Linked DNA regions of Homo sapiens. The protein of the gene in region 1 interacts with the protein of each later gene in a pairwise test. Each region holds a gene or a part of one and is shown in the gene's direction. Other genes may lie near its edges. The genes, in order: DNAJB6, SPATA22, CRYBA2 and WDR83.

Region 1 (7,022 bases):
GTCCTGCATTCTCATCCATTGCCAAGTTTTCATATGAACACTAGATGATAGGTAGTACTGCACACTAATCATTTTTTCTCTTTTGTCTTTTGTATGGTCTGTTATTTTTGACTGAGGATTTCTGGCACATTTAGGGTTATTTGATCCACTGCTACACGTTTTTTTTTTTTTTTGAGACGGTGTCTCGCTATGTCACCCAGGCTGGAGTTCAATGGCGTGATCTCGGCTCACTGCAACCTCTGCCTCCCAGGTTCAGGCGATTCTCCTGCCTTAGCCTCCCGAGTAGGTGGAACTGCAGGCGCCTGCCATGATGCCCAGCTAATTTTTATATTTTTAATAGAGACGGGGTTTCACCATGTTGGCCAGGATGGTCTCGATCTCTTGACCTCGTGATCTGCCTGCCTCAGCCTCCCAAAGTGCTGAGATTACAGGCATGAGCCACTGCGCCCGGCTGCTACATGTTTGTTTAGGTCCACAGTGACATAAATTACTGTTAAGTATTCTGGACTCCAGCTTTAATCAGATTTTAGTATGGTTAAGCCAAGGTTTTGTTGAACATGTTGTAAGTTAAATTGAGCCACAACAGCTTTACAGTAATAACTTGCCTAGTGTTAAAAGCACTGTCAGATTAGTATACTAGTCTGAAATTTTGAGGGGTATGCTGCTTCTCTTTTTTAACGTTACCCTCCTTTTGAATATATGCTGCTTAGGTTTTGCTAATTAGACTAGAGGATTTTTTTGTATTCATTCATTCATTCATTCATTCATTCATGCATTCATGTTGAGCCGGAGGCTCGCTCTGTCACCTAGCCTGGAGTTCAGTGGCACGATGTTGGCTCACTGCAACCTCTTTCTCCTGGGTTCAAGCAATTCTTCTGTCTCAGCCTCCTGAGTAGCTGGGATTACAGGTGCGTGCCTTCATGTCCGGCTTTTTGTATTTTTAGTAGAGATGGGGTTTTGCCATGTTGGCCAGGTTGGTCTCGAACTCCTGACCTCAGGTGATCCACCCACCTCGGCCTGCCAGAGTGCTGGGATTACAGGTGTGAGCCGCTGCACCCGGCCTTTTTTTTTGTATTTAAATAGCGTGCAATTATTTGGTCAGTTGGAACTCTGCAACAGAATATGACCTTGGTCATAGAATCTTTGTAGAAGTCAGTGTTTTAACTCTGTTTAGATCTTGAATCTGGCACAGAGGGTGTTTGAAAGATTCTGAGATCCTGGCCTGTTGGGTGGCAGGTGATTCACCTTTGGCACACAGATGAGCTAGGTAGTGGGGCTGGCTGAGGAAGTAGGGTCCTGGGAATCAGAACATGGAAGGATATGAATGGTGATGTTGGATCTTGCTGCTCAGTGACCCAGGCCTTTTTTTCCCTTTTTAAAAATTTTTTGAGACGGAGTTTCGCTCTTGTTGCCCAGGCTGGAGTGCAATGGTGCGATCTCGGCTCACCACAACCTCTGCCTCCCAGGTTCCAGTGATTCTCCTGCCGCAGCCTCCTGAGTAGCTGGGATTACAGTCAAGTACCACAATGCCCGGCTAATTTTGTATTTTTAGTAGCGTTGGGGTTTCTCCATGTTGGCCAGGCTGGTCTCGAACTTCTGACCTCAGGTGATCTGCCCACCTCCCAAAGTGCTGGGATTACAGGCATGAGCCACCACGCCTGGCCTTTCTCCTTTACTTCACATACTTGCTCAGTCTTGTCACTGTCAGTCCACGTTGTGGACACTGTGATCTTTATTTTTCTATCTCTAGAGGTTCGTTTGTATTATGCTATCAGGATTTTTATTCTAAAACTTACTTTAATGAGTATTTTTACAATTTTAATTTTGAGACAGTCTTGTTCTGTCGCCCAGGCTGGACTGCAGTGGTGTGATCATAGCTCACTGTAGCCTTGAACTCCTGGCCTCAAGCAGTTGTCACGCCTCAGCCTCTGGAGTAGCTGGGTCTATCTGTGGCTGCACGCCACTACGCCTGGCTATCTGGATTTTAGAACTTTGTGTATTTCATTGTAGAGGAAAGGGAGGTTTTACAGTTAAAACCAGTATTCATCTCACCAGTTGGCAGCTCTGAAGCCATTCTCGTGGTTAATGATGTTAGTTTCAAAAGCATAGTTGATTTCTGGATTTAGAATGTGATCTATATCCTTTATTCTTTCCAAGATATCGGAAACTGGCACTGAAGTGGCATCCAGATAAAAATCCTGAGAATAAAGAAGAAGCAGAGAGAAAATTCAAGCAAGTAGCGGAGGCATATGAAGTGCTGTCGGATGGTGAGTGACAGCGAGCTGCTGAAGGACCCTGAGCGGGCATGCCGGAATGCGGAGTGGGTGTTGGGATCCTCCTCAGGGTAGCACAGTATGGACTCAAGTGACTTGTTTTTGATGCCTACTGGATTTTGGGCCCTTCTAAGAGATTTTTACTTTTCTCGTGAAGATTTGAATTGATTTAGGTAACCACGAGTGCTGGGGAGCTCCAGGGCTTCTAGTAGTTTCTCCTAGGATGGCTGTTTTAAAAGCGGGACTAGACATCCTGGGTTTGAGGAACCTGGGAGAGAGGAGGTTGCGGGACTCAGGTCACTGTGCATGTGGCGTGCTTGCCCCCGTTGTGTGTGATCATTCTGACCTTGCTCACCCCCACTGGCTTAAACAATACCATTCCAGTGGAGTCAGCTTTACTGCTTGAGAGGATGTCATTAGTTCCCAAAAAGAGGGGATGGAACATACAGCTAAAATTTAGATTTCCAGTTTCAGGCCTGTTTTCCCCTCCTAGGTCTGGAGCAGAGGTGTTCTATGTTACTGGAAGTCAGATCCATTGGCCTAGTTCACAAATGGGTGAGGGGTCAGAGGTCAGCTGTCGCCTAGATGCAGTCAGGGTTCCATGGGGGAAGTAAAGGCTGTGCATGGGGCCTGGGGTGGGGGAACAGTGACAGAACTGGAAAGCCACACAGTGCCCCTGTCTGCTGCAGTGCTGGGTGGCCTGTTGTGAGCAAAGGCCGAGGCTTTTCCAAGGTTAGGGATGGACTAACTGAACCCTGGAAGTGGGCACTTGGTTAAGTGTATCTGCATGTGGTCAGGTAATTGGCCCTTATTTACAACAAAAAAAATTTTTTTTTTTTTTAAAGAACCCAATTTGAGGCAGAGGTTGCAGTGAGCCGAGATTGCGCCACTGCACTCCAGCCTGGGCGACAGTGCGAGACTGTCTCCAAAAAACAAAACAAAACCAAACCAATCAGAAGGAACCCAGTGTAAGCTTGCCACCTTCAACAGCTACCAGCACACCACCAGCCTTGCTTTCTCTGGTGACACTGTGGCCCACCCCCTTTGTTTTAGAGGAAATTCCAAACATTTTACTTCAAAAAATATGAAAAGACATAAAAACACCGATATTTGAAGTCTTCTTGAAATGTGGCATTTAAGGTCTTGAACTGTTGAGCTTATTCATTGGAAAGTTTATTTTTTTTAAAGAGAGAGGATCTTGCTATGTTTCCTAGGGAGGCCTTGAACTCCTGGGTTGAGGTGATCGTCCTCTCTCCTCAAGTTCCAAGCACCATTGCGCCAGGCTTGTTCCCTTAGATTTGTGCGCTGGGAGTGACAGAGGAGGGCACAGGCCTCAGTGTTACCATCTTGGTCTTCGGTCCTTGTTGTTTGTGTGCTAATTCAGTATTGCCAGATTCAGGATTTTAGGGACTAGTAACATTAGGAAAAGTGAGGGCCAAAATGAAGCTTCATATTTGATAGAGCAGCTTTAAACTACCACACTGAAAAGTCGCTTGGTTCTTTTGGGAGGTGTATGAGGTGTGTTTTTCATGTCCTTTTAGGCAGCCTTCAGTGCCAGCTGGAGTTGTCTTCAAAACATGGTCATTGTTCTTGCCATGGCACTGGCTACCTGAAACTGCTTGCAAGTGGTTTGTTTCTAAGCTCGTTTTCCCATTTTGTGGAATGTGAGATTTTCTTCTACTTTTTAAAAATTGAGAAGGGGTCTCACTCTGTTGCCCAGGCTGGAATGTAGTGGCATGATCACAGTTCGCTGCAGTCTTGACCTCCCAGGCTCAAGCGATTCTCCCATCTCGGCTTCCTGAGTAACTGGGACCACGGGTGGGTGCCACTGTGCCCAGCTAACTTTTTTGTATTGTGTTTAAAGGTGGGATTTTGCCGTGTTGCCCAGGCTGGTCTTGAACTCCTGGGCTTAAGTGATCCACCTTCCTTGCCCACGCAAAGTGTTGGGATTATAGGCGTTAGCCACTGCATCCAGCCTATGAGATTTTTTGAGGAACGCAGATGGTGTCATGTCAGAAGTACCAGTGCTTCTAATGTCATTGTTTTTGTTCTGGGATATAAGTAGCATTTGGAATGTAAGTGTGAAGACTGTCAGTGGAGAGGGGCACACTAGCCCCAGGCCTTGCATCCGGGTGGTCCACTTCGAGGGTGAATGAGCCTGTAGGGTGTTAGGTTGGCGCCTTTCTGGCACATCTGCTTTCTCCCACTTGCCTAGGCCCTGGCATGTTTGTTTTCGTGCTGCAGATATGGTCCTCTAATTGGGTTTTTGTAGTAAGATGGTGCACTTCTGTGGTTGCAATAATCTTGTACTTGGTCGTGTGATTTTAATGTAGCATGTCTGGGCTCTGTGCAGTAGAGTGAAAGAAACGATCTAATGGAATAAAGAAAAAAATTTTTTTTTGCTTTTGAGATGGAGTTTTGCTCGTTGCCCAGGCTTGAGTGCAATGGTGCAATCTGGGCTCACTGCAACTTCTGCCTCCTGGGTTCAAGCGATTCTCCTGCTTCAGTCCCCTGAGTAGCTGGGATCACAGGCATGCGCCACCATGCCTGGCTAATTTTGTATTTTTAGTAGAGACTGGGTTTCTCCGTGTTGGCCAGGCTGCTCTCGAACTCCTGACCTCAGGTGATCGGCCCTTCTCGGCCTCTGAAAGTGCTGGGATTACAGGTATGAGCTACCTCGCGTGGCTAAGTCCCCCCCGCGCCTACTCTTGTTGCCCAGGCTGGAGTGCAATGGCACGATCTTGGCTCACCACAAACTCCGCCTCCCGGGTTCCAGCTATTCTCTTGCCTCAGCCTCCTGAGTAGCTGGGATTACAAGTGCCTGCCACCACGCCTGGCTAATTATTGTATTTTTACAAGAGATGAGGTTTCACCATATTGGCCAGGCTGGTCTCAAACTCCTGACCTCAGGTGATCTGCCCACCTTGGCCTCCCAAAGTGGTGGGATTACAGGTGTGAGCCACCATGCCTGGCCGTAAATACTTAAATATTTCTAATAACTTGTAAAAATTCAACATACTGAATTTTTTTTGAATTGTTTTTCAGGAGAGAGGTACAGAAAGTTTTCCCTGTTGCTTTGTTTTGTTTTAAAGAAAAGGTGGCCATACTCCTTGAAATTCAGTTGTAAAACATCGAAAACTGATTTACAACTGGGGAAATACCTTATCTATTGAATTAAGGGTTTAAAAGGAACTTGGCCTTACCGACTTTTCTTTCAATTTTTAGCTAAGAAACGGGACATCTATGACAAATATGGCAAAGAAGGATTAAATGGTGGAGGAGGAGGTAAGTACGTGAGTTTTTTCTTTGAAGACAAAAGGTCTTGGCAAGTAAGTTGAGTTTGTAAATCACGAGTCTCTTGGTCAGAGTCGATTTTGTATCAGTAAATAGAGATGCAACGTAGAAAGCGAACTAAATTGGGGAGAGGACAGAGAAATTGATGGCATTTAAAAGTCTTTTACGAGACTAGAAGTATATGTTGATGTATTTTTTATAGATAGAAACAATTTGTAACCATACTGCAATATATTGTGAACATATACCCTTAGATCAGCACTTGACGTTATGTCAAAATATCCTAAGGGTTTAAAGAGCAGATTTTCCTGAAAAGCTAAAATAATGACTTTGAAGGGCGTGGACTTTGTCCCCAAAAGTTCCCACGGTCACTGGGCTGTGACCAGCCTCCCCAGGGGTGTTGGGAAATTATTGCTCCAAACCCACTGGGGCCACGCGGCAGCTTCTGTGGCTCCAGGAGGCCAGTCGTCGAAGTGGATGCAGATACTCTTGGTCTTCATAAACCTTCATAACAAATCATAAAAATGGTGTGTAATGTTACATGTTATATGCCGATCACGGATTTAGAGATGGTGAAAAGTAGTGTCGAAGGGGCCACTGCTGCACTCATATGCCATCAGCGCTGGGCACACTCACTCTCTGTCAGTACAGGGCTCATGTTTTGAATTATAGAGAACTTCAGGTTTATGAAATATTTTTGTTTTTATTAGTTCATGATTTGTATAATGTTTTGTCAACAAAGAATTCTTTGCCTACAAAGCACCAAAATTCATAAACTAAAAGCTGTGTTGTATTTGTGCAGGTGGAAGTCATTTTGACAGTCCATTTGAATTTGGCTTCACATTCCGTAACCCAGATGATGTCTTCAGGGAATTTTTTGGTGGAAGGGACCCATTTTCATTTGACTTCTTTGGTAAGTTAATCACGTGGGTTGACTTGGTGTGTGTCCATGACCCAAATGAGGGCTTACTTAGTATGGCCTTTCTGTTGAATTAACATTGTATTTTAGGCTGGGCGCGGTGGCTCATGCCTGTAATCCCAGCACTTTGGGAGCCTGAGGCGGGCAGATCACCTGAGGTTGGGAGTTCAAGACCAGCCTGACCAACATGGAGAAGCCACGTCTCTATTAAAATACAAAATTAGCCGGGCATGGTGGCGCATGCCTGTAATCCCAGCTACTTGGGAGGCTGAGGCAGGAGAATCACTTGAACCCGGGAGGCAGAGGTTGCGGTGAACTGAGATCATGCCATTGCATTGTTGTCTGGGCAACAAGAGTGAAACTCCTGTCTCAAAAAAAAAAAAGTTAACATTGTATTTTGTCACGAAACTTTGTGTTTAAAGCAGCATTGGACTAGCCTGAACAACATGGTGAAACCCTGTCTCAACAACAACAAAAAAAATACTAAAAATTAGCTGAGTGTGGTGGCGTGTGCCTGTGGTCCCAGCTACTTGGGA
Region 2 (7,325 bases), on another chromosome or scaffold:
AAGAGAGATCAAAGGAAATTCGATTTTCTTAAGAAAGGTTTAGAAATGTAAATGAGACTTTACCCAAAGGGCAAAGTACAGAATTCCCTTGAGTGGAGTATATTTTAATTTTCTGTTACAAGTTCTGAGCCCCGTTTATGGACACTCCCTTCTTTAGCCCTGCCCTTTGCCATATTTGGATTAAAATATGCAAAGATCAACTAGAGATACAGCTGTTTACTTTAACTTCTAACTCCCTCAGATGGTCAGTAGATCTAAATACAGTAATAAATTAGCATTTCATACTAATACAAAAATTCCATTCTTTTCCTCAGCTAGGATGTCATCCAGTGAGGCTTTCACAATTATCTGTAATAATAAAAATAGTTTATACGTTTCTAATTTCACAAAATAAAAAAGTGGCCCACTCAGTATTTCCACGGGCATTTCAAAACATTTCTTCTCTGAAATGAGTTCAAGCACTTTTCATGATCTGAGGGCATTTGAATCTCACCTCTATAAACAGCCAAAGGCTGACCCTCAGAGACCTCCTCTTGAACCGGCGCCCATTCTTTCAGAATGCTTTTTCACAATCAGAAACAGAAGGGCCAAATCAATGATCACTTGGGACTCGAAAAGCTACCCTGAAACATCCCTTCATTTCTTTCTCATGAGGTTTTTGGTAATTCTGTGTTAACTTACTTATGAATCTTCCTCATTTTTTGCCTAAATACCAAAGGAAAGACAACTGTTAGTACTTTTCAAGTTTTTGTGATGCCTGAAAATGTCTTGGGACACACTGCATGTGCTAACCACATCATGTGAACTTACATAGACACAGCCTTATTCACTGTCAGCGGGGACTCTCCACTGGACTGTGTTACTCAAAAAGGGGTCTTATTAGGGGAAATTTTCCAGAATACTAAGATGATTACATCCCTTTGGAGAAATGACTCTGAGCCAAATCTGATTTGATTTCATGCTCAGTCACCCAGAAAGTCACATATGTTCAAGTACTGGGAATACCATGTACTAGTAACGCCAGGTTGTTTGATAGAGGGTACAATAAGAGTAATTTATTACAATTGCAGAGTTTAATTTATAATGTCCTTTCACTCAGTTTATTCATACATTAATTTTATACGATAGGGTGGGTTAGGTGTTGACATCCCCACTGCAGGGGTAAACGAAAGAGAGGTTAAGTAACTCAGTTAAGGTTCTGCAGGGATGTAGGAGAACCTAGGCCTGAGACCCATGTTTCTCATCCCAAGTCTAGTGTTTTTCACAGGACAATAGGGTGCCTCTCTGTTATTTTTGGTCTTCTTCACAGTTCTAGTTTTGCTCTTTCAGAATTCACATAAACAGCCATTACAGTGTGCTCAGGAAACAAACATGCATACAAACCAAATACATGGTGGAAAAATAAAATATGAATGCTTCCTAATATTTAATAAACCCACTGAATGTTCTTCCTTTAAGAGCTTATAATGCAGAGATAGAGAAAGCAAAATAACCACATCAAATCTATGCATTAAAATGACTGTTCTAATAGAAAAAAAAAGCTCCTGTAGGCTTTGACTGTCTGTCCACATCCATGTACACTGAACACTTCAGACGGTGTAGAGATGATGAAAACACACGTAAAAGTAAACAGATGACAGTTGTTTAGTTGCTTTGGTTTTAAGAGCAGTAACCATGGTGAATTATTAACACTCTACTATGCTTGGTTTCTTTTCTGCTGATTTGTAGTTTGTTCTGTCCTTTGCCCTAGTCTCTCTGGAAATGCTGCTTCAGTTATTTACTCGTAGCTGGCACAAATGACTTGCATTTTGAAGCTTGTTTTATGGAATTTTAACAGATCAGCACTTTGAAGCACATTTCACATTCATAAATAAAGTTTCTCTTACATGTCAAAATGAATAACTTTTTTGAGAGTTAATGAATTGCAGCAATTATTTCCCATACTTACCTTGTTTTTTGTGTACAGAGTTTGTCTTCTGTGGAAAGCTTTATTAGGAAAAAGGAGAGCATTTCCTCAGAAGTAGAGCAACAGAGGCTTTTCATACTCTTATACCAAGTTAACTTCCGAAAGATTTTTAACTCCCTGTTTCCCAAAGTGTACTTGATTTTTGGGATGACCCAAAAAACCACACTTTTTTATTAGTTCTCAGCGAACTGATAGTATACGAAGTGAAACCCTTTCGAATTGTCACTATCTCATTATTAAGTTGAATATATAATATTCTGAAGTACTTAAAAGAGTAAGCATAACTTCCAGCATTACAAATGTTTTGTGGGATAGAGTTGCCTGATGTATTAATAAAATAATGTAGTTTAAAACAAAAGGATGCCAGGTGTGGTCTCATGCTTGTAATCCCAGCACTTTGGGAGGCCGAGGTGGGCGGATCACCTAAGGTCAGGAGTTCGAGACCATCCTGGCCAACATGGTGAAACCCCGTCTCTACTAAAAATACAAAATTACCTGGGCGTGGTGGCGGGTGCCTGTAATCCTAGTTACTCAGGAGGCTGAGGCAGGAGAATCACTTGAACCTAGAAGGCGGAGGTTGCAGTGAGCTGAGATTGTGCCATTGCACTCCAACCTGGGGAACAAGAGCGAAACTCCGTCTCAAAAACAAAACAAAACAAAACAAAAGGAGAGCAGAGTTTTACTTCACAGTCATGGCTGTCCAGTAGATCCCTGCCAGAAATTTTGTAGGAGACAAATTTAAGGTGGGTTGTTTCCCAAATGGTATGACTGGGGGATAAGAAGGGTTTTTTGTTAAATATTATACATAAGATGTCTCATACATAATGTGATGTTCAGTAGTTATGTAATCAAACTACTTTTACTACTTTAGTTTTCTCCTTCCCTGTGATCCATCCTGACCAACTTTCCAGGTGGAAATAAATAAGCAGAAAAAGACAAGTATAAAACAGATTAAGTTTATAAACTGCTAGCAAATATTCTATATTGCTCATGTCTGCAGTCCCTACAGAAGTAATCGGCTTAAGGTGGTTTTTTTTTTTTTTTTTTAATGAAAAATCTATTTTTGGGGTGGGTGGGTGTGTGTTGTAAATGTATGCACATCCGTATGTAGATATCAAGTCAAAATCTGCTTCCCTGAAGCTTCTATTCATGTTTTGGGTAACTCCTCTCTGGAACCATGATAAATAACAAGTTTTATTTTTATTGTTCAAGTCTTCTTCTTCCCAAAATAAAAGATGGCCCTATTCCTTGAAAGCTGTTCCTTACTCTGGCATTCAAGGTCTGCTATTATCTGGTCTCAGTCTACATCTAATATTATTTTCTAACACTCTTCTTTACTTGAGATAGTTTTAAAGCAACTACTAAAATGTCTGTGGTCTTATAGGCCTAGGCCTTTACTAACAATCTTCCTTTCATCTCTAAGCCCTTCCCTATCCCAGTCTTCAAATGGTTAGAAGATACGGTAACAACAAAACATGGGCTTTGAACTCAGACAGCTCTAGAATCCACTACCTGGCCCATAGTAAGTTCCGGATAAATGGCAGCTACTGTTACTCAAATTAAATAAGGGCTAACAGTTACTGGGCATTTACTGTGTGCCAGGATTGTCTATTTCATCTTCTAGTATTTTTAGGGCGATTGTTGTTATTGTTCTTTTACTGGTAGGTCCAGAGGGTGTTCAGTAAGTAACTTGCCCAAGGTCACAGGGCCAGGAATCCACAGTCCTCTTTGCCAGGAAGCCTGGAGCTCAACGCCCAGGGTCGCACACCACGCGGCTTCCCCTGCAGAGCGTCTCTGCGGCTCACGGGCGCTTCCCTCCCGCAAGCTCCCGCAGCCCCGGCGCTGCCTCGCTGACGGCTCTCCGCCTTCCATGGCCGCCATCTGAACCTGGGCTTCAGCTCTGTCCCCAGCCTCCCGGGGACTCAGATTCCCTGACCCTGATCCGACCCAGAAATTGAGCCAGACACCTCGGGTGGCCTTCGAGTCAATCTCTGGGCACACTCTGGGTGGCCACCAGCATCTAACAAACGGATGTCTGGACCCTAAGGGCCAGGGGGTGAGGGGAAGTGGGGCACACTTTTTAGACGATGGTGGGGCTGAGGCCGGTTGGGCAGGAGATCTGCCTCTGTCTCTCCAGTCACAGGACAGTCTCCTTTCCTCTCTGGGCAAAACTCTAAGGAGCTGGAGCCATCCCTGGGTCCACAGTGTGAGAACGCCAAGGAAGAGCGTTAACGTCATCGCGCCCGGCCAAGGGCGGCCAGGCAGGCAGCGAAGATGCCATCGCGCCGAGGTGGCGGCCACTGCGCCTGCGCGGTCCACGGCGCCTGCGAACAGCCTGATTCCCGCGCTTTCTTCGCGGGCGGGAAGGGCGGCGGTTGCTGACGGGGCCGCCTGGACGACGGTTGACGGAGGCGAGGGAAACTGAGGGCGAAAGTTGTGTGTCGTGTTGGCAGGAGGGCCTAGAAGGGAAAGACTGTGCGTTGATACCAAACTGCCCCCACTCCGTGGGCGGGTCAGGAGAGGCCTTTGGAAGAGCGTCTCAACTCGGACTGGAGCCTCTTCTCTCCCACCGCGGTCAGGAGCCAAAACAGGCCGCCATTTGAGGCCGTGGTTTTTGTGGGTGGTGTGTGTGTGTGTGCGTGCAGATTGAGCACACTTTTTGCACACCAATGCCACCAACCCCATTACTAACGCCACTTAGGTCCATTTGGGAGCTGGGATTGGGGGTAAATGAGGGTCCCCGCCCTCAGGATCAATGGTCCCGCGGGTGGAATGTTACACTTAAAAATTTTGTTGTTGTTTATTCTGTTTGTTTGATCCTGAGAAACATAATAGCCCTCGTAAGCCCCTCTAAATATAGGATGTGAGTTGCGCCGGTGGAGAAAGTGGCAGAATCCCTGTTGTGGCTCCTAGGATGGCGCCAAGAATATTTTCCTTTCCTTTCCTTTCCCTTCCTTCCTTCCTTCCCTTCCCTCCCTCCCTTCCTCCCTCTCTCCATTTTTTCCCTAGAGTCTCGCTCTGTCGCCCAGGCTGGAGTGCAGTGGCGTGATCTCGGCTCACTGCAACCTCCGCCTCCCGGGTTCAAGTGATTCTCCTGTCTCAGCCTCCAGGGTAGCTGGGATTACAGGCACGCACCACCATGCCCGGCTAATTTTTGTATTTTTAGTAGAGACGGGGTTTCACGTTGTTGGTCAGGCTGGTCTTGAACTCCCGACCTCAGGTGACCCACTTGCCTTGGCCTCCCGAAGTGCTGGGATCACAGGCATGAGCCACTGCACCTGGCCACCAGGAATATTTTCTAAAGGGTCCATCTCTTCTACCCAGCTTCAAGCCTAAGATGTGGAAACAAAACAGAGGCAGCACCTGACCTCGTGTTTCCCAAGTTGTTTTTTTTTCTTTTTTTTTTGAGACGGAGTCTCGCTCTGTCGCCCAGGCTGGAGTGCAGCGGCACGATCTCCGCTCACTGCAACCTCCGCCTCCCGAGTTCATGCCATTCTCCTGCCTCAGCCTCACGAGTAGCTGGGACCACAGGTGCCTGCCACCACGCCCGGCTAATTTTTTTGTATTTTTTAGTAGAGACGGGGTTTCCCTCTGTTAGCCAGGATGGTCTTGATCTCCTGATCTCGTGATCCGCCCGTCTCGGCCTCCCAAAGTGCTGGGATTACAGGCGTGAGCCACTGCACCCGGCCTGTTTCCCAAGTTTTATTTTTACAAACGATATTTGAAAGTTAACACCTCGGCCTGACTTGCATTATTGCTTAGTTGTGTATGTGTCGGTCTGTCTGTCTCATTGGGTTGTGAATTTGGAACAGAAGTTACCTGGTTTGGGTTTGTATCTTGCCTCTTCTTGCAGTGGGCAAGTGTTCGTTGTATTAGATTGGGGATGAAATGTGTTAAGGGGCTAAACGTGCAAAATTACAAGAGAAATTCTATTGTAAAAGAAGAAAACTAAGGAAAAACTTGTTTCACTTGTTGAAGTTGTGGAAATGGAGTGGAAACTTGTCATTACAATTATTCTAGATATGAAGGGAGGACTTAGTCTTTTTTTTTTTTTTTTTTTTTTGAGATGGAGTCTGGGTCTTGTTGCCCAGGCTGGAGTGCAGTGGCACGATCTCAGCTCACTGCAACCTCGGCCTCTCGGGCTCAAGCGATTCTCCTGCCTCGGCCTCCCGAGTAGCTGGGATTACAGGCGCCCGCCACCACTCCTGGCTAATTTTGTATTTTTAGTAGAGATGGGCTTTTGCCATGTTGGCCAGGCTGGTCTTGAACTCCTGACCTCAGGAAGACTTAGTCTTTGATATTATATAATCCAGGCATTTCAAACTGATGCAAAGGCAGATGTCCTGCACAATGCCTTAAAGTGGGGCATGGAGGAAGTTCCCGGTGGCTAAATACTGTGTTTCCTCCTTGGCCTTGGAAGCATGTACGTTTGCCAACGCTGTGGTCCATTTTCCTCTTTGTAGGTGTGGTTCAGAATTCTCTTTGTGGGTGCGGGATTCTGAAATAAATTACATATACTGTGTGAAAAAATGCACATATGTTTACGAAGCAAGGTTACAGTTGCCCTAGTCATAACTTAATTTGAACAGGGTTGGAAAAGTGGATTATGGTGTAAACTCTTAGAAAGCAAAGGACTCCCTAAAGTGTTTACGTGATCAGGTTTGAAAGTAGTTTACAACCATAATTTCAGTAATCACTGGGCTGAGGATTGGGTTTTATAGTTGAGACAATACGAGTTATAAGTTTCTTTCTTTGCAGGTCTAGTGGGACAATGTCATATTATAAATTTGGAATGCTGAATAGAAAATTATAGATTTTGATATTGAAGGAAATGAAGCGAAGCCTAAATGAAAATTCAGCTCGAAGTACAGCAGGTATTGAACAACTTTTTATTTTTAAATTTTCTGTATAGCATATAAAGCTTGTATAGTTTATAGATATAACATTGGAAATAAATTTAAAATAGATTGAACAGTTAATCTAGCCTCTTTACTTTTTAGGTCCAAGGAAGTAAAATAACTTACTCAAGACAAAACATTTAGTGGTAGAGGTGGGAGTAAGATCAAAGTTTCTTAGATTTATTTTGATATTCTTTCTACAAATTCGATGTGCTTGAGTTATTCTATGCTTTAAAACTGAAAACAAAGAAATAGATCTATTTTTGTTTGTATTTGTGACTTACTTGTTAAAAATATTTCCGGAAGCACTTCTGTCTTTCTAATAGCTTCTCCTATCATTTTTGCTTTCCCAATTTATTAGTATAAAGACAGATGGCAAGGATGATGAGAACCAGGGGAATGATGATGCATAATGAAGATAATAGTAACTATTATTTATGGTGGATTAACTGTATTCAAGA
Region 3 (7,648 bases), on another chromosome or scaffold:
CTGCCAGCTCCTGGATGGTGGCCAGTTCTCTAACCCCACTGAGGGGCAGAGGAGAGGGGCTCTGTTTCTAGTGGGATAGAACAATGGGTCTGTGTGGGTGGGACTCCTAACTGGCCCAAACTGGGCTGGTCTCTGTACCCCGTTATCTCTGTCTCCCAGGAGACCAGTCCTGCACAGCCCCAGGGAAGGTGCTCATCTGCTGATTCTGGGCTCCAGACTGGGGGTGGGGGCGGGGGCCAGAGAAGCAGGGGTGGAAAGGAGGGGCTGGTGATGGTGGCAGGGTGAGGGAAGGCACCCTTCCCTGAATTTGCATCTTCAGTACCCAACCCCTGGATGATTTCCCAGTAAAACGAGGGGGGAGGGCTGGGAGGCGACCCGCTCGAGGAGGGGACATTGGCCACCAGCCCCTCTCCGCTGCCCAGCAGTACTGAGCAGTCAGGCTGTTCCTGGGGTGGGGCTCTAGGTGAGAGAGGTGCCACTTCTTTGGGATTCTCAGGGCCTTTGCCTAGGACGGAGATTGGGCAGGAGCTTAGGAGTGGGTTTGAGGGCTTCCTTGCGGGATCTATGTGTCCCCACATGGGATGGGAGTCCGGGTGGGATGTGAGGGCCTCATGGAGGGGACTTAGGCTCAAAGGATTCTCTGTGGGATCTTATGGGTCTGTATGGGATGGGGGTTTCGGTGAAATCAGAGGGCAGGAGATGGTGGCTAGGGATGGGGTGAGGTCCTGAGGATTTCCTTGTGGGACTCAAAGGTCCCAGTGTGAGATGGAGAACTGAATGAGGTCAGGGTGGGGGCCCTGAGGGTGATAAGATCTCTGTGAGATTTTGAGGGCTCTGTGAAGTGTCCACTGGGGTTTCTGGTTTTTGTCTACCTAATTCCCCGCTCCATGCCCCAAGGCCAGGCTGTGGATGTGGAGGGGGTAGGGGTGACTGTGCTGAGCTGGCAAACAAAGCCACCTGGGCACCCATCCTTCAGGAAGCTCTGGGCGCAACTGATCTGGGAAAACAAACAGGAACAGCTGCTAGGGGTGGGGGGGGTGGGCGGCATGGCAGCTGGGGAGAGGAGCAGAGCTGGACCAGCCTGGTAGGGAAAGGAGGAGACCAGTAGGGGGTCCGTGGTACCCAAGGGGGGTTATCGATCCCAGAGTCCTCTCCTGGCACAGTAGGCAGGGCTGCCTCGAAGCCCCTTCCCCTCAGTGGTTCTTCTCTTTGGCGATAACTGTGAGGCCTAAAGTCAGGAGGGGCCTGAGGGCGTTAGGGGAACCCTGAGATGTTTAGAGGTCTTCTGGGCCAGTGACTATGGGTGGCGGTGGTGGGTATGCCCATTTCTGAGAGAGCTGGTCGCAGTTACTAGAACTAGAAGTCATGGGTGAGGGGGTGGGGGGGGTACCTCCATACCATTTCCACGGGGAGGGACAAGGTAGAGAAGGGGAGAGGCTGGCTGCCGCCAAGACCAGAGTTTCACACTGGAGGAGGAGTAGGGGCCCTTCTCACACACGGGGTCCACTCCCCAACTCCAAGCGGGACTCCTAATTCTAACCTGGACCTCGGCTGGACGGCCTCCCCGCTTTTCCTCCTCCCCTAACCCTGGAAAAGGCGCGACGCACCACTCCTGCAGAATGCCGCCGTGGGACCCACGCGTGGAGCCCGACCCTCGAGAGTACGTCCAGCCCCCAGCCCCGCTCGGTGCACAGTGTCCAGTCTCCGACAGACACCCCCACACCCTCTGACCAACACTTGGCGTCCGCGTCAGGGACAGCGCAGACGCACAGCCTGACGCACTAGCCACCCGCGCCCGCGGCCCCTCCCGACCTGGACCTCCCCTTCCACCCCGCCCTCCGCGCCAGCTTTCGGGCCAGCGCGGCCTGCTCCTGCCCTCTGGTGGCCGAATCCAGAATTGTCGGATAGAGATGGGGGAAGGAGGGAAGGCGAGATCTGATTCTTCACCCCTCACCCCTGCCCGGGCTGGTGACACTGAAGGCAAAGACTGGGACACCAAGGGTCCAGAACTGGCTCGTGCCCCACTCTGTGGTTTGTATTCCCTCCTTGAGGTTTGTGTTTGTTCAAACCCCCGCTAGGTAGGGAATCAGGACACTGTTCTGACCTCACCCCCAGTCAAACCTGCCTGAGGTTGTCCCATCTCTGACCCATATCCTCCTCACTCGGACTCTACCGCCATGCCCAGTTCTAGGGCCCTGTACTGTTGGCACCCATCTTCACACACACTGCGAGCTCCAACAGTAACTCCTCACCAGGGAAAAGAGAGCCCAAGGGATCCTCTGTCTGCCCCCAGCTCCTGCTCTCAGCAACCCAGAACTTCAGAGGTGGGAGAGCAAGCTGCCAAGACCCCCCCGCCAACTTCCATTGGAGAATTTTCTCTACACCCCTTTTCCCGTGGACATTTGGCCCACGCCTGACCACCTTGTTCGTTCACTCGTTCAAGAAGTTTTATTGAGTGCCTACTATGCATCCAGCACTGTGCTAGGTTTGAGGATAACAACTGAGAACAAAACACAGTCCCTGCCCCTTCAAATGGAGCTTACACTCTGGTAAGGGAGATGCTGCTACACCCATAAACACAAGATGAAAAAGATAACTTTACAGCGTGATAAATGCTAGAAAGAAAAAGGCTGATGTGATGGATGGAAGGGTGCCTAGAACAGCATCACTGAGGAGGTGACACAGGAGCCAGCCATGCCACGATCTTGTGACCAAGACACTCCAGGTAGCTGGAACAACAAATGCAAAGGCTCTGAGATGGGCTGAGTATGGAACACTGGGAAGAAGGCTTAGAAGGCAGGCTGGTGTGGCAAGGCTTCTGGGAGCTGGGGTGTCCGCAGCTGGCCTGTGAGCACTTTTTGGCACGGGAGCTTCAATGGACAGCGGCGGAGCACAGGCTTTGGCTTCCAAAGGTCTGAGCTCGATTCTTGCTCTGAAACTGGCTAGCCATGTGAGTTTGGACAAGGCCCTGCACCTCTTTGACCCTCCGCTTCCATAACCGTACACACAAACCTAACTCGCTGGACTGTTGTGAGGACCCATAAGGGAAGCATGTGACTCATGGAAGCAACAAAATATTAGCTCCCTTCTCACTCGCCCCTCTCACCTCTGCTGGAATATCCCCACCCGCACCCACCACCATTAAGGAAAACCTACAATTTTGCAAGAAGCCTTTGTGTCTCATTTGCTGTGGTTAGAAAATTCCACTGCAAGTGGTGAGGAAATTTCCTACCTGGAGCTACCCCTTGGGACTCCCAACCTTTTTGGAGCTCCCAACCTTTTCCTCTTCCCCCTCTACCTCCCCTTTTCTCTACACCCCCCACCCCCACCCCCACCGCCGCCTTTTCCCAGCTCACTCTGTCGCCCAGACTGGAGTGCAGTGGCTTGATTTCGGCTCACTGCAACCTCCACCTCCTGGGCTCAAGCAATTCTCCCATCTCAGGCTCCCAGGTAGCTGGGACTACAGGCGCATGCCAACACGCCCGGCTAATTTTTGTTTGTTTTTGCAGAGACGGGGTTTCACCATGTCGCCCAGGCTGGTCTCAAATTCCTGGGTTCAAGAGATCCTCCCACCTGGGCCTCCCAAAGTGCTGGGATCACAGGTGTGAACCACTGCGCCCGGCCCTGGGAGATTTCTTAGCTGTGACCCCTGCACCACATTCCAAAGCCCTCTGGGCCTCCACTTCTTCATCTGCGAAATGCAGGACAATAACAGTATCTTCCTAGCAGGTCAGTGTTAGAATTGATGGAGTTCACGCACCCGAAAGCCTGAGCAGAGAACTCGGCCTGAACTAAGCGCTTCATCCTCAGCTGCTAACTCTCAGGCAGACGTCGAGGCTGGAACCCTTAGAGCCTGGAGCTTTGTGGGAGACCCGCAGCGGCACCGGTTGAGCCGAGCTAAAGCCCAACATTCTTCCTACCTCCCGCGGCGAGCCACTCCCTAGGTGGCTATTATGCCTAAACACTGAGTAAACCGCGCGGCCCTCGGGCGGTCGTTTCCAGCGCCCGGCGCCGCCGCGTGGCGAGTCCTGACCACCGCCTCCTCTCCTTCCCGGGCCCGAGGACACCCCGGGGGCGCGGCGCAGGATCTGGGAACGCACGCTTGGGAGGAAAAGGGCCGCGATGGACCGATCCCCCAGGAAAAAGAGGACTGAGCACATGAAGCGAATCCTTTGGGCAGAGCCCTCTCTACCTCCGCCTTAGCATCGCCCAAAAGAGAGGCCTGGACTAGGGCCGAGGAAGGCTGGCGATTAGACTCTGGGAAGAACTTCCGCTCAGCGAGTCAGCAGCGCGGTCTTAGCCCGAGGCCCAGGGGAGGCCAGGTCCCTTCGTCCCCGAGGGCCGGGACAGGGAGGGCGCGTTCTGCCCCGAGGCCTGGCGTGCCCTGCCTGGCTCAGGCTGGAAAGAAAGAAAGCGCGGAGTCAGCCTGGGCTGCGGCGGGCGCGGGGTGCGCGCCTCAGCACTTTCTGTTGTCTTTCCCGCGGGCTGGGGCCACAGCGGCGGCTGCGGGAGAGGCCTCGGCTCCCCAGCGGAGACCAGAGCCGACCGCAGCCTGCCTGCTGACTCAGCGACCCCACCCCCGAGGGAAAGGGTGCGGACAGGGGGACAAGGCCCAGGTATAAAGCTCGGCCCGCCCGGCCGCGCGCAGCCTCGCAGCCGGTCCATTTCCCTCGCGTGCCGCGCTCACCCACCCGGTGAATGCCCTCTGCTGGGGTGGGGAAGGGAGGGGAGCGCGGGAAGACTGCGAGCCCCTGGCAGCCGGGTCCAGAGCTAGGCCGGGTCCAGCCCCCGGGTTCTTCATCCGCTACCCAGGTTGGGCAGGCTGTGTGTGGCTCGAAACGGGGCTCTTGAGACGCTGAGCGCGTGGTGCCACCCTTCCTGTCCGCAGCGGCATGAGCAGCGCCCCCGCGCCGGGCCCGGCGCCCGCCAGCCTCACGCTCTGGGACGAGGAGGACTTCCAGGGCCGTCGCTGTCGGCTGCTAAGCGACTGTGCGAACGTCTGCGAGCGCGGAGGCCTGCCCAGGGTGCGCTCGGTCAAGGTGGAAAACGGCGTGTGAGTGATTGCCTGGCCGCGGCTGGGCTGGGTTGAGGGGCGCTGGGTTCCACCGGCCTAGGCTCAGAGCCTCAGCCCCCTGTCCTGTGAGCCCTGGAGAGACCTGCCAACATGGGAAACCCCATAGCCTCCCCAAAATTCCCCACCCATCGCAAGATAAATCATGGGAAACTGTGTATTTTTGTGCTAGCTAAAGAGACACAGGCGAGAAGCGACCCCTTGAGGGTCCCTATGGGACCCCACCGTGAAGGGGTTTCTAGTGTACTTACACCCTTCCCAGAGTTTTTCTCTGTGCAAAATTAGAAGGCTCTGCACTTGGCTTAACAAAAGAAACCCAATCCCTTTCCCTGGCCCCACCCTGGTCTCCCAGAGCCCAGCTTTTCCCACCCTGCCGCCCCCTACCCCTGCCCCAGCTGAGGTCCCAGTTTCTGCTGTGATATTCGGGAGGGGTCCTCCAATGTGTCCCCATGCAAAGGCCTAAACCCTTGAGGCAGGAGCACTGGGTCGGGAGATCTTCATAACCAGGAAAACTCTTTCCCAACCTGGGGTCCTTGAGGGGGAAGCCTGGGCGCCTCAAACCCCAGAAAGCAGCAGGTTTTGGACCTTTAGTTCCGAGAGGGGCTGGATTGCCATACAATGGGGGTGTCAGGGGAAGGGTTTGGGGTTGGAGAAAAACATTGTGCTTCTCAGTCTTTTCAATCATGGCCGGCAAGGGGGAGGGCAGAGAGGGTGCGGCTGGGGCAGATACCTCCCAGCTCTTCTCCTTTTCCAGTTGGGTGGCCTTTGAGTACCCCGACTTCCAGGGACAGCAGTTCATTCTGGAGAAGGGAGACTATCCTCGCTGGAGCGCCTGGAGTGGCAGCAGCAGCCACAACAGCAACCAGCTGCTGTCCTTCCGGCCAGTGCTCTGCGCGGTGAGCACAGCCCACTTCTCCTCCCCTGCCTCCTAGCTCCAGGCCCTGGCCTCACCATGGCACCTAGAAAGGCTGTTCAAGCCCTGCATGGGGTGTGTGTAAACAAACTCCGAGATGGGTGGTAGTAGCATTATTTCTCAGAATCAGAAGGGTGTCTCCAAGAAAGTTGGGATTGTGGGCGTAGGCCCGGAGCCCAGAAATCATCACCACGGACAGCGCTGAGGCCATCCCAGTCCTGAGTGCCCAGGGTTCCCCCACATTCCATCGTCCACACGTGTGAGTGAGTGCCTCTGTCGTCACACAGCCATGTGAGGTCGGGTTGACTGCTGTTAGCCCCATACACAGGTGTGGAAATGGGGCTCAAAGGGACAAAGTGGCTTGCCCAGGGTCACTGAAAAGAGTCAGTCTCAGTGTGTTTGTGTGTGTGTTATTGTGTGTGTGAGGGTGTTGTTAATGAATCAAATACACCGAAAGAGAGGACCTCATTTTCCATTTGTGCCGACCTGGTTACTAGTAGGGCTGGGAAGTGGAGAGCAGAGGACCCAGCCCAGGCCAGCCCAATTCTTCTGTTCCAAGAGGCTGAAGAACCCTGCAGTGGGAAGGCCGGAGCCAAGATGCAATCAGTATTGATGCCCTGACATGTCTATTCTGATTCTGCCACCCAGTACCTCTTAGCTGGGCACTAATCTGTGAGAGGCTGTGCGAAGGGGCTGGGCAAGGGCTTGGGTAGTTAGTCAATGAGGACCTCAGGGAACTGTCTTGGTGAATGGGACAGATTTCTCTAAGGACCTCTGATTTTGCTCCTGCAAAATGGGCCCATGTCACAAGATGCTCTCTAGTCCTGACCTGAAAGGGTCTCTGGAAATCCTATCCCCCAATCACCTCCTTATCTCAAAGTCATGGGAGGGGCCAGGTTCGGGGGAACCTCTGAGCGATCCATTTCCCAGACTGCCAGGGAGCTGATGGGGTGAGCTCTGGGAGTGCCTGTGGGTCCTAGACAGCTTCACAGCTTGTGAGGTGCAGTGGGTGGGGGAAGTGAGGCAGAGGATGTATCCGTTAACCCTTTGGAAGCCCTGATCTTTCTGTCCTGATCTTGCTGTGCCTCAGAACCACAATGACAGCCGTGTGACACTGTTTGAGGGGGACAACTTCCAAGGCTGCAAGTTTGACCTCGTTGATGACTACCCATCCCTGCCCTCCATGGGCTGGGCCAGCAAGGATGTGGGTTCCCTCAAAGTCAGCTCCGGAGCGTGAGTCCTGGAACTGGAACCAGGGAGACAGAAGAGCAGGGAGGCAATGGGGACCAAGGAAGAGGGTGGAGAAAAGTGATGTGGGGAGGGCGCTAAGAGAGATATTGGGGACTTGGAGGCAAGGGGAGGGAGATGATGGAGTCAGACTGGAAGGGAGGAAATGAGGAGGTCCTAGGAGAATGGGGGGCAGCGGGCAATATGGGCACAGATGAAGGGCTGGAGAACATGAGGGGGTGGAGGAAATAAGGGGTGGGTATAGAAGACTGGATGAGAACGGTGACAGAAAGACTGGAAGCAGTGGGCAGGGGAGGGAGAGAGCCACGGAGGGAAAGTTGAAGCAATGATTTTGGAACTGGGGGTTGGGAGCTACAAAAGGGGGGCTGCTGGTGGAGAACATAGGGTGGGGGTGGGGGCAGAGCTTACTCCCTGCC
Region 4 (6,548 bases), on another chromosome or scaffold:
TCCCTGAGCCAAAGCCGCGGCCTCCAGAGCTGCCGCAGAAACGGTTGAAGACGCTGGACTGCGGGCAGGGGGCAGTGCGAGCCGTACGATTTAATGGTGAGCGCCTTCGTCTTCATTCCGGGTCCTCCTCCCGCCTCCTGAGATCGACGGCCCAGTAACCCCCGCCTGGTGTTCCCCAGTGGATGGCAATTACTGCCTGACGTGCGGCAGTGACAAGACGCTGAAGCTGTGGAACCCGCTTCGGGGGACGCTGCTGCGGACGTACAGCGGCCACGGCTACGAGGTGCTGGATGCGGCCGGGTGAGCCGGGGACCAGGCTGGGATGGGAGCGCTGAGGCTGGGATCCGAGGTCGATGCTGATCCTCCTCCTCCTTTACTCCAGCTCCTTTGACAACAGTAGTCTCTGCTCCGGCGGCGGGGACAAGGCGGTGGTTCTGTGGGATGTGGCATCAGGGCAGGTCGTGCGCAAATTCCGGGGCCACGCAGGGGTGAGTGAAAGCCTGGAGACCCTCATTTGAGTGGAGGGGACCCGTATTAGCGCATAGGTGGTGACACGGCCACCCCCATTACACCGTAAGGATCCCTTCCCCAGATGACGATCCCCCACTCCGCATGCCAGGCTAGGCAGTCACCAACCCCTGTCCTTGCTGTTCCCCCAAAACCTTTCACCTCCCCTTCGCCCTTGCTTTAACCGACACTGGGAACCCTGCCTTTATCCCAGTCCTCCAAAGTCCAGCCTCCTCTGAGTGGCAATAACTTTCTCAGAAGGTGAACACGGTGCAGTTTAATGAAGAGGCCACAGTTATCCTGTCCGGTGAGTCTGGGGCCTAAGCACGGGGGCCCAGGGTGCTGCCCTCCCCCTCCAAACCTGACCTCACCATCATGCTGGCCTCACAGGCTCTATTGATTCCAGTATCCGCTGTTGGGATTGCCGCTCACGGAGGCCTGAGCCAGTGCAGACGCTGGATGAGGCCAGAGATGGCGTGTCCAGTGTGAAGGTGTCAGACCACGAGATCCTGGCAGGGTGAGTGGAGCCAGGACCTGGTCTCACCCCAGGTGCTACGGGGAATCATAGCTGCCCCCATGCTCAGATTAAAACCTACTCTCAGCTGGGCACAGTGGCACACAGCTGTAATCCCAGCTACTTGGGAGGCTGAAGTGGAAGGATCACTTGAGTCCAAGAGTTCGAGGCACCATTGCACTCCATGCTGGGTGAAAGACAGACTGTCTACAAAATAATAATAATCTGGCCGGGCACGGTGGCTCACACCTGTAATCCCAGCACTTTGGGAGGCCAAGGTGGGCAGATCACTTGAGGTCAGGAGGTTGAGATCAGCCTGGCCAACATGGTGAAACCCCGTCTCTACTAAAAATGCAAAAATTAGCCAGGTGTGGTGACGGGAGCCTGTAATCCCAGCCACTCGGGAGGCGGAGGCAGGAGAATCGCCTGAACCCGGGAGTTGGAGGTTGCAGTGAGCCGAGATTGTGCCACTGCACTCCAGCCTGGGCGACAAAGTGAGACTCCATCTCAAAAAAAAAAAGATAAAATGATTTCTAAAAATAAATAAAAATAGGCCGGGCGCTGTGGCTCATGCCTGTAATCCCAGCACTTTGGGAGGCAGAGGCAGGCGGATCATGAGGTCAGGAGATCGAGATCATTCTGGCTAACACGGTGAAACCCCGTCTCTACTAAAAATACAAAAAATTAGCCGGGCATAGTGGCAGGCGCCTGTAGTCCCAGCTACTCAGGAGGCTGAGGCAGGAGAATGGAGTGAACCCAGGAGGCAGAGCTTGCTGTGAGCCGACATCGCACCACTACACTCCTGGGCGATAGAGCAAGACTCCGTCTCAAAATAAGTAAATAAATTAAATAAATAAATACATAAAAATAATCATAAGGAAGAATTTTTGTTTTTTTTGAGACGCAGTCTCGCTCTGTTGCCAGGCTGGAGTGCAGTGACGTGATCTCGGCTCACTGCAACCTCTAACTTCTAGGTTCAGGCGATTCTCCTGCCTCAGCCTCCCTAGTAGCTGGGACTACAGTCGCGTGCCACCACGCCCAGCTAATTTTTGTATTTTTAGTAGAGACGGGGTTTCGCCATGTTGGCCAGGAGGGTCTCCATCTCTTGACCTCGTGATCCACCTGCCCTGGCCTCCCAAAGAGCTGGAATCACAGGCGTGAGCCACCGCGCCTGGTGGAAAAAATATATTTTCTATTCATTAAGTGGAAGTGAAGAGATCGTCATAAAGATCTTCGTGTTGAGAAAGCAGAGGAGGAGGAAGAGGAGGGATTGATCTTGGTGTCTCACAGCTGATAGAGGCAGAAGAAAATCCACATATAAGTGGACGCGTTCAGTTCAAACCGTGTTGTTCATGGGTCAACTGTACTTTGAAAAGTGCTCCCTCTGGTGGCTGTGGGGGGTGCAGGGAGACCAGAACAGTCTAGATGCTGGTGCTGGGTAGTGGGGAAAGTGGTGGGACTGAGTACTGAGGAGGAGGAGCTGGAGAATGCAGGAAAAGGGGGAATTGGGCCAGGTGGGGTGGCTCACACCTGTAATCCCAGCACTTTGGGAGGCTGAGGTGGGCGGATCACCTGAGGTTGGGAGTTCGAGACCAGCCTGACCAACATGGAGAAACCCCGTCTCTACTAAAAATACAAAATTAGCAGGGCGTGGTGGTGCATGCCTGTATTCCCATCTACTCGGGAGGCTGAGGAAGGAGAATCTCTTGAACCCGGGAGGCAGAGGTTCCGGTGAGCCAAGATCATGCCATTGCACTCCAGCCTGAGCAACAAGAGCAAAACTCTGTCTCAAACAAAAGGAAGAAAAGGGGGAATCAGAAGGACTCCAAGGGCTTGGAAAGGGGGTGTGGGTCTTGGAAATGATGGAGTAGGACGTAATTGGCCCTGGGCCTGAGTCTCAAGGCCAGAGCTTCAGAATTCCACTCCTGTGCACTGGAAGAGCAGGCCCACTGGGCTGGGAAGGCACAGGGCTGCCTGGAGCCATGTGAGTGTAGTCAAGGTTCCCGCTGGATCTACCCTCTCCTGCAGCTCCGTGGATGGCCGCGTGAGACGCTATGACCTAAGGATGGGGCAGCTCTTCTCAGACTACGTGGGCAGTGAGTGTGGCTGGGGATGTGGGACAGGCAGGGAAGATGGGGGGCCAACCAGGGGCACCCCACCCTCACTCACCTACCCACCCTTCCCCCAAGGCCCCATCACCTGCACCTGCTTCAGCCGGGATGGGCAGTGCACCCTGGTGTCCAGCCTGGACTCCACATTGCGGCTCCTGGACAAAGACACAGGGGAGCTGCTGGGCGAGTGAGTCCTTGTGGTCGTGGGGATCCCCTTCCCTCCTCTCCCACCCCTGGAGAGGACCAAGCCCCCCGATCCTGTCCACCCTTAGGTACAAGGGCCATAAGAACCAGGAATACAAGCTGGACTGCTGCCTGAGCGAGCGTGACACACATGTGGTCAGCTGTTCTGAGGACGGGAAGGTGTTCTTCTGGGACCTGGTGGAGGTGAGGTGCCCCCAGCCCTACTTCATACCTAGATGCCTGCCCCATCTCAGCCCTGTCCTTACCTCAGTCACTCCAGGGCCTGAAGGCTAGGATCTTTTTTTTTTTTTTTTTTTTTTTTTTGAGACAAGTCTTGCTCTGTCGCCCAGGCTAGAGTGCAGTGGCGCAATCTTGGCTCACTGTAAACTCCGCCTCCCAAGTTCAAGCGATTCTCCTGCCTCAGTCTCCTGAGTAGTTGGGATTATAGGTGCGTGCCACCACACCCAGCTAATTTTTGTATTTTTAGTAGAGACAGGGTTTCACTATGTTGGTCAGGCTGGTCTTAAACTCCTGACCTCATGATCCACCCACCTCAGCCTTCCCAAGTGCTAGGATTACAGGCGTAAGCCACCACACCCGGCCCTTTTTTCTTTTTTTGAGACTATTGCCCAGGCAAATGCAGTGGCGCCATCTCAGCTCACTGCAACCTCTTCCCCCCAGGGTTCAGGTGATTCTCATGTCTCAGCCTCCTGAGTAGCTGGGATTACAGGCCCCTACCACCATACCTGGCTAATTTTTGTATTTTTAGTAGAGACAGGGTTTCACCATGTTGGCCAGGCTGGTCTCAAACTCCTGACCTCAAGTGATTCACCCGCCTCGGCCTCCCAAAGTGCTGGGATTACAGGCCTGAGACACCGTGCCCAGCTTGGGCTAGAGAGAAGATGAGGCAGGAAGGGCATTCCAGGCAAAGGGAACAGCATATGTTAAGAGGTGTAGCCTGCGCATGCATCAGTCAGGAAACAAAGGCTTCAGGGTGGCGGCAGGTGCGGCAAGATCCGGGGTCAGGCTGGGCTGCAGATGCCAGGCCGAGCAACTGGCACTGACCCCTGGGCAAGGGGGAGCCGACGGCCATGTCTAACCTTGGGTGAGATAGGGCTGCAGTCATTCAAGAAACTGGAGCTACATCTTAGCATCCCTGTGCATGGTTTCAAGCCCTGAGCCCTGTCCTTGACATGTCCCAGCCTGGTGGGGAGTCAGGCCAGAAACAGACCATCCTGGTGTAGTGGGGTCAGAGCCGGGGGAATCTCGGCAAAGGAGACATCAGCGCTGGGCTTGGCCAGGGGAACTAAGGCCCATAAGAGGATGGAGGGAACCGGGGGGGCCCTGAAGACTTGGCGGACAAGCTCTTGCTTTAGGAACTAAGGTAGCAAGAATGTTCCACCTATTTCTTATGGGCCCAGTAGAACAGAAGTTGCCTTGGAGGGCAGGCACATCAAGGGACATTTTCAAGGTGGAAAGAGGAAGCATGGCTTGCTTGAGGAACTGTTTACATTGTGTTGGGACCAGGGGAAGTGGGGATCATTGGGGCTGCCAAATGGACAGGATGGAGCCCAGCTGGTGGCAGGGAACAGGCAAGCTGTGAGCAAGGCATGCTCCAAACATGGTAGTGGCAGAAAATCAGCAGTCTCTGGACATGGTCTAGAAGCAGAGCCAAGAGGAATAACTGATAGAGGAACATGTGGTACAAGAAAAAGACTCCCGGCCAGGCATGGTGGTTCACACCTGTAATCCCAGCACTTTGGGAGGCCGAGGGGGGTGGATCACGAGGTCAGGAGATAGAGATCATCCTGGCCAACATGGTGAAACCCCATCTGTACTAAAAATACAAAAATTAGCTGGGCATGGTAGCGCGTGCCTGTAATCCCACCTACTCGGGAGGCTGAGGCAGGAGAATCGCTTGAACTAGGGAGTCGGAGGTTGCAGTGAGCCCAGATGGCGCCACTGCACTCCAGCCTGGCGACAGAGCAAGACTCCATCTCAAAAAAAAACAGAAAAAGAAAAAGACTCCCAAAGCCAGGCATGGTGGCTCACACCTGTAGTCCTAGCACTTTGGGAGGCCAAGGCAGGAGGATCACTTGAGGCCAGGAGTTCGAGACCAGCCTGGGCAACATGGTAAGACCCCATCTCTGCTATTTTAAAAAATAAAAAATCAATAAGAGGCTCCCAAGACTTGCGGCCTGAACACCTGGTAGGACAGAGCTACTGAGGGGCTCAGTCTGAGGTAGATTAATTTTGCAGTGTCTAGGAGGCAATTAGAGGCAGGTGGCTGAAGGTCGGGGAGAGGTGACTGAGGGCTTCAGGCAGGACTGAGATGGGGGGTGCCCAGGGACCTCAGAAACCAGGGTACAGCCCAGCCACAGATAACCACTCCCTACCCCTCGCTCCACAGGGTGCGCTGGCTCTGGCCCTGCCTGTGGGTTCCGGTGTGGTGCAGTCGCTGGCCTACCACCCAACAGAGCCCTGCCTGCTGACCGCCATGGGAGGCAGCGTCCAGTGCTGGCGAGAGGAGGCCTATGAGGCAGAGGATGGAGCAGGCTGAAGCCAGGGGACCCACCAACAGGACCAAGGACCGAGACACAGACATGGAAGGACTTCAGATACCATCTTATTCTAGAGACGTAGCTGACCAAAAAGTAGGGGAGGGGCTGGGTCTGCAAATTAATAAATAGAAGAGGGGGTAAGACCTTCCTGGGACCGCAGCCGCTCAGTCCTCGTTCTTCTCATGCATGAAGGCATCCATCTTCTGGGCAAAGGTTTCAGCCACAAGCAGGGGGAAGACCAGGGAGGCGTCAGCATAGACCTGGGTAGGGGGGAACCTGGGTAAGCCATGGGACCCACACTCATCGTCCCAGAGACCCTATGCCCCACCCAGCCAGCGCTTACCTTGACGGGCTGTGCATCCACCCGGATCTTGCCCCAGGAGACAGCCTCGTCTGGTCGGGCACCTGAGTCAGAGCCATCAAACTCCTGGGCTGTGTTGATGTAAACAGCGTAGTCGGCCCCGTTCCGCTGTGGGGAGGCGGGGGCACGGTGGGCCCAGTCAGCCAGTCACAGGAGACAGACACAGAGGGAGGACACCGTAGCCAAACAGGCTGAGAGGTGTGTCCCAGATGAAGGAAGCCCTTCACAGACATTCGCTCCCAGACAGGGCCCATGTCAATGTCTGGGGTCACTAGAGCTGCTGGGCAACGATGGCTGTGTTTCCCCAGACC

The links.
Region 2: the proteins of DNAJB6 (region 1) and SPATA22 interact in binary tests that used the Homo sapiens proteins (3 or more experiments, as listed by UniProt).
Region 3: the proteins of DNAJB6 (region 1) and CRYBA2 interact in binary tests that used the Homo sapiens proteins (3 or more experiments, as listed by UniProt).
Region 4: the proteins of DNAJB6 (region 1) and WDR83 interact in binary tests that used the Homo sapiens proteins (3 or more experiments, as listed by UniProt).

What each region holds. Positions count from the first base shown.
Region 1 is NC_000007.14:157,361,004-157,368,025, forward strand, and holds part of DNAJB6 (dnaJ homolog subfamily B member 6), read left to right. Parts: intron 1-2,157; coding exon 2,158-2,267; intron 2,268-5,498; coding exon 5,499-5,558; intron 5,559-6,369; coding exon 6,370-6,480; intron 6,481-7,022. UniProt on the Homo sapiens protein: Has a stimulatory effect on the ATPase activity of HSP70 in a dose-dependent and time-dependent manner and hence acts as a co-chaperone of HSP70. Plays an indispensable role in the organization of KRT8/KRT18 filaments.
Region 2 is NC_000017.11:3,468,798-3,476,122, reverse strand, and holds the start of SPATA22 (spermatogenesis-associated protein 22), read left to right. Parts: upstream 1-4,303; 5' UTR 4,304-4,441; exon of another isoform or gene 4,442-4,692; intron 4,693-6,724; 5' UTR 6,725-6,797; coding exon 6,798-6,840; intron 6,841-7,325. UniProt on the Homo sapiens protein: Meiosis-specific protein required for homologous recombination in meiosis I.
Region 3 is NC_000002.12:218,990,421-218,998,068, reverse strand, and holds the start of CRYBA2 (beta-crystallin A2), read left to right. Parts: upstream 1-4,646; 5' UTR 4,647-4,892; coding exon 4,893-5,053; intron 5,054-5,825; coding exon 5,826-5,967; intron 5,968-7,074; coding exon 7,075-7,217; intron 7,218-7,648. UniProt on the Homo sapiens protein: Crystallins are the dominant structural components of the vertebrate eye lens.
Region 4 is NC_000019.10:12,669,798-12,676,345, forward strand, and holds the end of WDR83 (WD repeat domain-containing protein 83), read left to right. Parts: coding exon 1-96; intron 97-179; coding exon 180-300; intron 301-382; coding exon 383-488; intron 489-765; coding exon 766-814; intron 815-897; coding exon 898-1,024; intron 1,025-2,672; exon of another isoform or gene 2,673-2,783; intron 2,784-3,049; coding exon 3,050-3,117; intron 3,118-3,210; coding exon 3,211-3,319; intron 3,320-3,404; coding exon 3,405-3,519; intron 3,520-5,725; coding exon 5,726-5,875; 3' UTR 5,876-5,994; downstream 5,995-6,548. Other genes in the region: DHPS (deoxyhypusine synthase), read right to left, coding at 6,041-6,136, 6,220-6,345. UniProt on the Homo sapiens protein: Molecular scaffold protein for various multimeric protein complexes. Acts as a module in the assembly of a multicomponent scaffold for the ERK pathway, linking ERK responses to specific agonists.